Linked DNA regions of Homo sapiens: region 2 is linked to region 1. The links come from fine-mapping of genetic effects on gene expression. A gene starts in region 1. The other region holds a variant in brackets. All regions are shown on one strand. Distances are from middle to middle.

Region 1 (5,376 bases):
GTACAATAATGTCAATAGACTGTAGCAAGATATAACAGCATGCATAAATCCCACAAACAGTGTTGGGTAAAAAGAGCAAATTGCAGAAGACTACACACAACATGATGTCATTTTTATAAGATATACACACACACACACACTATACATATATGTATATCATACATATGTTGTAGAACTATTTAAAACACACAACACGGTCATACAATTACCTTGGGCAGGGAGTTGGAAAATAAAGGCAATAGAACACATGCACCTTCAATGCTACTGATAATTTTCCATGATTGGCTAGATCTGGGAACAGTGTGGGAATTAGACAGATTGCAAGAATTGGAGCAGTGACAGGAGAAAAAATGCAGTTTGACCAGTTAGGTCTAAACTCCAAATCACGGGTGTTCATGTTATTATTTACTTTACATACACGTTGTACGTACTCTTAATTATCAAATATTATGTGATAAGATAATTTAAAGAATATTTAAGGACCAGGAAGTGTTTATGACATAATGTTAAAGGAAAAAAAGCAGAACATAGAACTTTGGATGCAGTATATGCATCTGTTTCATTTTAAAACAGGGACATCCTTCATTTGTGGGTATTTGTGTGCAGAGAAAAAAGATTGGATAACATCAAAATATGATGAGTGAACGTCTCTGGATATTGGGATAGCATGTGATTTTTTTCTTTATACTTAATGTTCCAAATATTTCACAAGGGCATAAATATACATGAATTTTACAATCATAAAAATTGTGCTGGGTGTGGTGGCTCATTCCTGTAATACTAGCACTTTGGGAGGCTTAAATGGGAGGGTTGCTTGAGTCCAGGAGTTCAAGAGCAGCCTGGACAAAATAGTGAAACCCTATCTCTACAAAAATAATAATAATTTTAAAAAATAATAAATATATAAAATAAAAAGTCTCTTTTAAAAAAATTTTAAAGTTAGGTAGAGATTAAGCTACTTTTTACTAAAAATTATGTCAATGTTCATGTTTAAATTTCAACTCTATTTTTAACATTCTAAATCTTAAACTAGGTGGTGAATCCAGAAATGTTCATTATGTTATTTTTTATATCTTTATAATATGTGAAGTATTTCATGATACTGTTTTAAAGTTGCTATTAAAAAGTAACTAGGCAGGGTGTGGTGGCTCACGCCTGTAATCCCAGCACTTTGGGAGGTCGAGGTGGGCAGATCACCTGAGGTCGGGAGTTCGAGACCAGCCTGACCAACATGGAGAAACCCCATCTCTACTAAAAATACAAAATTAGCCAGGCATGGTGGTGCATGCCTGTAATCCCAGCTACTTGGGAGGCTGAGGCCAGAGAATTGCTTGAAACTGGGAGGCGGAGGTTGCGGTGAGCCGAGATCGCCCCATTGCACTCCAGCCTGGGCACCGAGAGAGAAAAAAAAAGAAAAGAAAAGAAAAGTAACTACATGGCTGAATTTTTTTTTTTAAGCAAATCTTAAATGAAATGCAAACACCAGGACTGTGAACCTGTAGCTTTGGTCACAGGTAGCAATATGGCCTTACTGGTTGTATAGCACTTACTGAATTTTTCTTGAGAATTCTAAAATTTGAGAGTGATGCCAGATAAAATTGCATCAAGAAATCTGAAAGGAACGATTTATTCTGGCTTCAGGAAATCTGATTTTATATTTCTGTGACATAAGACAGGTTTTCTTTTTTCCAGAATGATCCTCTACTCTGAATAACCATAAAATTTCACTTGTGGAATACATCAAAATTATTTATACATCAAAATTCTCTTAAATATTTTATAGTAATCTTTCTAAAAATCCTTCAGTCTTACTGTACTTGTCTAGAGTTGCAAAAATGTAGTGTTAACATTAATATTAAAAGCACTTTCAATGAAATTTCTAAACAGGAGCCAACCCTCTGAGCTGGTATTTCAAAGCAGTATCTATAAACAGAGCAATTTGTTCCAATTTCAGATGAAATCAAGCTGGGAACCTAGAGAGCTCCCCCGCCCCAGGATCTAGGGAATTGTAGTCAGGTTCTAAGCTTCGGAAAAAACGAGCAGCAGAGTATGGTCTGATAAGCTTCGTGCATTTTATTTTGCTTTTCCTCCTTTATTTGATTTGTTGTCATACAGGAAAGGATTTATGGGTGAGAGATCAAGTGCGGACCAGACATGACTCTAGCCTGGAGCCCGACCTCACCTCTGCTCTGCAGGAACTGCTGGCCTCAGCACGAAAACCCACAACCCTCGAAAGGCCTTAAGGATCCTGGGCGGGGTCATTCTGTCAATTGGTTGTTCCGCTGTCCTAGCGAAGCGATGATTGGTCAGATCTGGATATGGGGTGTGGCTAAGGCTGTTTGCCGGAATAAGAGCAGAGCTAGGGCCAAGAAACGCTAGTCTGGGCGTTTAGGTCAGAACTACCCCGGTAGCCTGACAGCAGGAGCTCGAGAGAAGCATGGCTCAGCGGTGCGTTTGCGTGCTGGCCCTGGTGGCTATGCTGCTCCTAGTTTTCCCTACCGTCTCCAGATCGATGGGCCCGAGGAGCGGGGAGCATCAAAGGGCGTCGCGAATCCCTTCTCAGTTCAGCAAAGAGGAACGCGTCGCGATGAAAGAGGCGCTGAAAGGTGAACCCGGGTCCCCTTCACCCACCTATGCTCATATGTGGGTCCCTCCCTCCCCAGGTCAACCCGTGACTCCCCGCTTCCGCCGCAAAGCATCTGCTACTGCAGCTGGAGCCCCGACACGCACCCCAGCCCGGCCCCAACACCCTTCCCAGCACATCGTGCCCCTGTCTGGGGACGCCACACTTCCCCCATACCTGGCTCCTGGAACTCTGGTGTGCCCTGCCTAACCTGGAAGCTCCAACTTCACCCCTCTTGGCGTGACCACCGTCCATTCTTTCCCCTGCTTGCCTCGAGTATTACACCAGCTTTCATTTGTACATCAATTTTAACCTTTGAAAGTTTGCATGCCTGATAAATTACTGCGGTGTCGTAAAATAAGACAAATGATATTAGTCTTATCTACAAAGGAGAGAAATTGAGGCTTAGGTCAGCTAAATGATCTTCCCCAGGGCCCCACAGCAAAGAGTGGGCAGTGGGTGACAGCATCTAGTGCCTGTCGGACTCGCTGGGATCAGATGGCTCTAAAGAAAGGGAGTGGAGTGTTCCCGGGGTGTGGGATGTTCCTAATTCTCAATCATAATTGAAGAACATGTCTCCTCTAGATCTCTAATCCAGACCAAAAATTCATCCCTGTTCTGAATCTGCATTTTCCAGGAAACAGGAAAGTTTCTGTTGAGTGCTAGATCCTATGGGATGAAATCCTTCTTTACCATTCAGCTTAGCTCCAGTCTTTTCCCTTTCATTAAGTAATGGATTAAGAGAGACTGCCTGCATAAACATATAGAAGCAGATGCAGGGACCAAAAGCTAACCCCAATAGTTGGATATAGATTGTTCATATGCTAGAGTGACAAGCCTGGGAGGCAGAGCAGGGCTTTCCCAAAGCATAAATAATTCTCTAAAAGGCATTAGACAGCCACTCACAGTCTGCACAGAAGAGAACAAAAGCTACATAAGCTAGAATAGGGACCTCATAGCAACACAGCTTGGAACTCTGAGCAGGGGACAGAACACCTGAGATCAGATCCTTGGGTCTGCCCTTGAGTAGGCACTTGAATCTTTCTGAACCTCGGCTTCCCCATCTATCTGGTGGGCTATGCTATTGTAGGGTTGATCCTTAGCAAAACTGATGAAGTTTGTCTTTCAGAGACCCTTCCTGCCTCAGGTGAATTTGTTTGCACTGTGTTCTTGGAGAGCAGTCTAATTCAATATTCTCATGATTCATGCTTTCCCTCCCAGTGGTTTTGTCTTTGATCATGGAACTCTTTAAAACTGTAAAGTCTTAAAGACTCAAAGGGATGAGCCCAGTGAAGGTTCAGGAACTGAGACAACTGAGTAAGGAGGGTGAGATTATTTTAGGACTGAGGAGTTTGTTTGGAGGCTTCTAAATCCACCCCTTCCCAGGCATTATATGCCCAAAAAGCTGGTCTTGGTTGACAGACTAGTGAGACTCTGCATAAGGAATAAGCCTTTACATACAAAAACACACAAGCCTCATTGATGTAGGGACCCAGGACAGTGGGTGCCTTGAGAATGATGAAGCTTGGATTCATCAAAGCAATTGGTGATTTCAGAGGTAGTGAGGCCTTAGGAAGCAATTTATAGTAGCTTCCCTTCAAGACCAGGATCCAAAAATCCACTTCCCTCCAATCTTAGACTGTATTTGCCTTTAAGAACCATATCAGCCTAAACAAACCCAGAAGACATAGGTTTAAATCTATAGTCTGCCTGTTGCTCAGACAGCTCACCTAACCTCTCCAAGCATTTTCCCTCATCTTCGAATTAGAGGAAACAATAGCGCCTACCTCACATTAGTGTTTTGCCCTCTGCAATATGATAATGAAGGCAAAAGAACTTTTTGTGCACAGAGGACTGTAGAAAAAAACAATGACTAATTCATTTTCAATCTTTCATCTCTATTTGACTCTGACAGGTGCCATCCAGATTCCAACAGTGACTTTTAGCTCTGAGAAGTCCAATACTACAGCCCTGGCTGAGTTCGGAAAATACATTCATAAAGGTCAGCTGCAAATCAGGGGCAAGGGGTGGGTGGTAGAAATAGCAATGGAGACACAGTTCTTTTACAAAGTGATAAAGAAGTTTATTTTGCGACTGATCAGAGGACAATCTAATTCCCATAGGCAGAGTAGAGACTGTAGATTTGCTCTTGGAAAAACTAAGCCACCATATGTAGGGCAAAGATTGAGAGTTCATCCAGCCATTGCATTAGAGTACAAACTCTCTCAAATTTTGCCCTACATGTGTGTCATTCAATAAATGTTAAATCATCAAAAAGTAGAACTAGGATTTCCTTCTACTTGTGCAACTGCCCAGAACTATGTTCCATGCTCCTCCCACCCCTACCTCCTTACACACCCAAACACACCGGTACATATACACTCCACGTACTCAGGCCTACCCCAGATTCATTACTAACACATTTCTAGGCCTCTAGGCAGTCAACAACTTTGAGCTATAACATCAGTCTTTTTCCCTCATCCCTACCACCCATTGAGTACAGAGCTGAGGAAGGATGGGTCAGAGGAAAAAAGGATTCTTGGAACTCCTCCCTCCCCTTATGAAAATCTCATGGAGAGTGATGAGATTACCTTCCTAAATCTAATTAAAAACAACCCCTCCAAAGTTGTCAGAGGTGGGAGAAGGTGGCCTAGGAGCAGCAAGCAGCCCCCTCTCTAACACCCTGGGACAAATGGCTCTGGGATTAGCCATGCATGGTGGCGAGCACCTGTAGTCCTAGTTACAGGAGGCTG
Region 2 (5,376 bases), 39 kb before region 1:
TCGGGGAGACTCTAACCCAGTGGCACTAGAGGAATTAAAGACACAGAAATATAGAGGAGTGAAGTAGGAAATCAAGGGTCTCACAGCCTTCAGAGCTGAGAGCCTCCAACAGAGGTTTACCCATGTATTTATTAACAGCAAGCTAGTCATTAGCATTCTTTCTATAGATATTAGATTAACTAAAATTATTCCTTATGGGAAATGAAGAGATGGGCTGAAATAAAGGGATGGGTTGGACTAGCTATCTGCAGCAGGAGCATGGCCTTAAGGCACAGATCACTCATGCTATTGTTTGTGGTTTAAGAATGCCTTTAAGCGGTTTTCCACCCTGGGTGGGCCAGGTGTTCCTTGCCCTCATTCTGGTAAACCCACAACCTTCCAGCGTGGGCGTTAAGACCATCATGTACATGTCACAGTGCTGCAGAGATTTTGTTTATGGCCAGTTTTGGGGCCAGTTTATGGCCAGGTTTTGGGGGGCCTGTTCCCCACAGAGAAGATGATAACCAGCATCATAAAAATATGTGAAACTATAAAAACTCACTGGTAAAGCTAACACATAGGGAGAAAGAGATAAGACTCAAATCTTATCCCTACAGAAAACTGCCCAACCACAAAAGTAAACAGTAAGAGAGGAAGGAACAAAGGATATACAAAACAAGCAGAAAATAATAGAATGCTAGATGTAAGTACTCACCTATCAAGAATAACGTTGCATGTAAATAGATTGAATTTTCCCATTTAAAAGATATAGACTGGGCTGACTCTCTTTTTGGACTCAACTCGTCTGCACCCAGGTGAAATAAACAGCCTTGTTGCTCACACAAAGCTTGTTTGGTGGTCTCTTCACATGGATGCATGACACATTTGGTGCCAAAGACCCAGGTCAGCAGGACTCCTTCAGGAGACTGTCCCCTGTCCTCACCCTCACTCCATGAAGAGATCCACCTACGACCTTTGGTCCTCAGACCAACCAGCCCAAGGAACATCTCACAAATTTTAAATCGGGTAAGTGGCCTCTTTTTACTCTCTTCTCCAACCTTTCTCACTATCCCTCAACCTCTTTCTCCTTTCATTCTTGGTGCCACCCTTCACTCCCTCTCTTCTCTTAATTTCAATTCCTTTCATTTTCTAGTAGAGACAAAGGAGACACATTTTATCCATGGACCCAAAACTCTGGTGCTGGTCATGTACTCAGGAAGGCAGCCTTCCCTTAGTGTTTAATCATTCCGGGGATGCCTGCCTGATTATTCACCCACATTCCATTGGCGTCTGATATCTTCAGGGATGCCTGCCTTGGTCATTCAACCACATTCCCTTGGTGGCAAGTCAATTGCGGGGATGCCTGCTTTGGCTGCTCACCCACATTGCAGCCCAGGGCTGCTCCCCAACCCTTTCTCCATGTCTCTACCTTTCTCTTTAAACTTGCCTCCTTCACTATGGGCAAACTTCCACCCTCCATTCCTCCTTCTTCTCCCTTAGCCTGTGTTCTCAAGAACTTAAAATTTCTTCAACTATCACCTGAACTAAAATCTAAATGTCTTATTTTCTTCTGCAACACTGCTTGGCCCCAATACAAACTCGACAATGGTTCTAAATGGCCAGAAAATGGCACTTTTGATTTCTCCATCCTCCGAGACCTAGATAATTTTTGTTGAAAAATGGGCAAATGGTCTGAGGTGCCTGACATCCAGGCCTTCTAATACACATTGGTCCCTCCCTAGTCTCTGTGCCCAATGCAACTCATCCCAAATCTTTCTTCTTTAGCTCCTGTCTGTTCCTTCAGTCTCCACCCCAAACTCTGAGTCCTTTGAATCCTTCTTTTCTACAGACTGATCTGACCTCTCCCCTTCTCCCCAGGCTGCTCCTCGCCAGGCCAAGCTAGGACCCAATTCTTCCTCAGCCTCTGCTCCCCCACCCTATAATCTTTCTATCACTTCCCCTCCTCACACCCAATCTGGCTTACAGTTTCGTTCTGCAACTAGCCCTCCCCCACCTGCCCAACAATTTCCTGTTAAAGAGGTGGCTGGAGCTAAAGGCATAGTCAAGGTTAATGCTCCTTTTTTTCTTTATCCGACCTCTCCCAAATCAGTTTTTAACATCAAATATAAAAACTCAGCCCAGTTCATGGCCCATTTGGCAACAACCCTTAGACGCTTTACTGCCCTAGACCCAGAGGGGCCAGAAGGCTATCTTATTCTCTATGCATTTTATTACCCAATCTGCTGCTGACATTAGAAAAAGCTCCAAAAATTAGATTCTGGCCCTCAAACCCCACAACAGGACTTAATTAACTGCACCTTCAAGGTGTATGATAATAGAGAAGAGTTGCAATTACTTGCCTCTGCTGTGAGAGAAACCCCAGCCATATCTCCAGCACACAAAAACTTCAAAATGCCTAAGCCACAGCAGCCAGGCATCCCTTCAGGACTTCCTCCCCCAGGATCTTGCTTTAAGTGCTGGAAGTCTGGCCACTGGGCCAAGGAATGCCTGCAGCCTGGGATTCCTCCTAAGCTGTGTCCCATCTGTGCGGGACCCCACTGGAAATTGGACTGTCCAACTGGCCCAAGGCTCTGACTGTCTCCTTCCCAGGTCTTCTTGGCTTAGTGGCTGAACACTGACACTGCCAATCACCTCAGAAGCCCCCTGAACTGTCACGGATGCCGAGTTTTGGGTAACTTACAGTGGAGGGTAAGTCTGTCCCCTTCTTAATCAATACAGAGGCTACCAACTCCACACTACCTTCTTTTCAAGGGCCTGTTCCCTTGCCTCCATAACTGTTGTGCGTATTGATGGCCAGGCTTCTAAACATCTTAAAACTCCCCAACTCTGGTGCCAACTTGGACAATATTCTTTAATG[T/C]ACTCCTTTTTAGTTATCCCCACCTGCCCAGCTCCCTTATTAGGTCAAGACATTTTAACTAAATTGTCTGCTTCCCTGACTATTCCTAGGCTACAGCCACACCTCATTGCTGCCCTTTTCCCCAGTTCAAAACCTCCTTCACATCCTCCCTTGTTATCTCCCCACCTTAATCCACAAGTGTGGGATACCTCTACTCCCTCACTGGCAACTGATCACACACCCATTACTATCCCATTAAACATAATCACCCTTATCATGCCAATATCCCATCCCACAGCACACTTAAAGGATTAAAGCCTGTTATCACTCACCTGTTACAGCATGGCCTTTTAAAGCCTATAAACTCTCCTTACAATTCCCTCATTTTACCTGTCCAAAAACCAGACAAGCCTTACAGGTTAGTTCAGGATCTGTGCCTTATCGACCAAATTGTCTTGCCTATCCACTCCATGGTGCCAAAACCATATACTCTCCTATCCTCAATGCCTCCCTCCACAACTCCTCCATAACCCATTATTCTGTTCTAGATCTCAAATATGCTTTCTTTACTATTCCTTTGCACCTTTCATTCCAGCCTCTCTTCACTTTCACTTGGACTGACCCTGACACCCATCAGCCTCAGCAACTTACCAGGGCTGTACTGCCACAAGGCTTCATGGACAGCCCCCATTACTTCAGTCAAGCCCAAATTTCTTCCTCATCCATTACCTATCTCAGCATAATTCTTCATGAAAACAACGTGCTCCCCCAGCTGATCATGTCCAGCCAATCTCCCAAACCCCAACCCCTTCTACAAAATAACAACTTCTTCCCTTCCTAGGCATGGTTAGGTACTTCCACCTTTGGATACCTAGTTTTACCATCCTGACTAAACCATTATATAAACTCACAAAAGGAAACCTAGCTGACCCCATAGATCCTAAATCCTTTTGCCACTTCCCTTTCCGTTCCTTAAAAACAGCCCTAGAAGCTGCCCCCACACTAGCTCTCTCTAACTCATCCCAACCCTTTTCGTTACACACAGCCAAAGTACAGGACTGTGCGGTCAAAATTCTTACACAAGAGCCAGGACCACACCCTGTAGGCTTTTTGTCCAAACAACCTGACCTTACTGTTTTAGGCTGGCCATCATGTCTCCATGCAGCAGCTGCTGGTGCCCTAATACTTTTAGAGACCCTCAAAATCACAAACTATGCTCAACTCACCCTCTACAGTTCTCATAACTTCCAAAATCTATTTTCTTCCTCATACCTGACACATATACTTTCTGCTCCCTGGCCCCTTCAGCTGTACTCACTCTTTGTTGAGTCCCCGACAGTTACCATTGTTCCTGGCCTGGACTTCAGTCTGGCCTCCCACATTATTCCTGATACCACAACTGTCCCCCATGACTGTATCTCTCTGATCCACCTGACATTCACTCCATTTCCCCGTATTTCCTTCTTTCGTGTTCCTCACCCTGATCACACTTGGTTTATTGATGGCAGTTCCACCAGGCCTAATCTCCACTCACCAGCAAAGGAAGGCTATGCTAGAGTATCTTCCACATCTATCATTGAGGCTACCACTCTGCACCCCTCCACTACCTCTCAGCAAGCTGAACTCATTGCCTTAACTTGAGCCCTCACTCTTGCAAAGGAATTTTGCGTCAATATTTATAGTGACTCTGAATATGCCTTCCATATCCTGCACCACCATGCTGTTATATGGTCTGAAAGAGGTTTCCTCACTATGCAAGGGTCCTCCATCATTAACGCCTCTTTAATAAAAACTCTTCTCAAGGCCACTTTACTTCCAAAGGAAGCTGGAGTCATTCACTGCAAGCACCATCAAAAGGCATCAGATCCCATCATTCAGGGCAATGCTTATGCTGATAAGGTAGCTAAAAAAGCAGCTAGCATTCCAACTTCTATCCCTCACAGCAGCTTTTCTCCTTCTTATCTGGTCACTCCCACCTACTCCCCCACTGAAACTTCCACCTATCAATCTCTTCCCACACAAGGCAAATGGTTCTTGGACCAAGGAAAGTATCTCCTTCCAGCCTCACAGGCCCATTCTATTCTGTCGTCATTTCATAGCTTCTCCCATGTAGGTTACAAGCCACTAGCCTGACTCTTAGAACTTCTCATTTCCTTTCCACCATGGAAATCTATCCTTAAGGAAATCACTTCTCAGTGTTCCATCTGCTATTCTACTACTCCTCAGGGATTGTTCAGGCCCCCTCCTTTCCCTACACATCAATCTCAGGGATTTGCCCCCAACCAGGACTGGCAAATTGACTTTACTCATACGCCTTGAGTCAGGAAACTAAAATGCGTCTTGGTCTGGGTAGACACTTTCACTGGATGGGTAGAGGCCTTTCCCACAGGGTCTGAGGAGGCCACCATGGTCATTTCTTCCCTTCTGTCAGACATAATTCCTCGGTTTGGCCTTCCCACCTCTATACAGTCCGATAACAGACCGGCCTTTACTAGTCCAATCACCCAAGCAGTTTCTCAGGCTCTTGGTATTCAGTGGTG

What was found. PIP is the estimated chance that this variant, and not a neighbour inherited with it, causes the effect. A credible set is the group of variants that fine-mapping cannot tell apart.
Region 2: its variant is the best candidate, but not a certain one, in a credible set for the expression of PM20D1 in lung (TOPMed, PIP 0.51).

What each region holds. Positions count from the first base shown.
Region 1 is chr1:205,847,134-205,852,509 of GRCh38, reverse strand. It overlaps PM20D1 (peptidase M20 domain containing 1), which reads left to right and starts at 2,378. Exons shown (of 13, transcript NM_152491.5): 1 at 2,378-2,606; 2 at 4,539-4,625. The coding sequence starts at 2,438. RefSeq lists an enhancer at 2,155-2,449.
Region 2 is chr1:205,885,805-205,891,180 of GRCh38, reverse strand. PM20D1-AS1 (PM20D1 antisense RNA 1) reads right to left here. Exons shown (of 3, transcript NR_046097.1): 2 at 1-25. Among named protein-coding and RNA genes, the nearest start is that of PM20D1-AS1, 26 kb to the right of the region's middle. The variant T/C (reference allele first, on the strand shown) is at 2,858.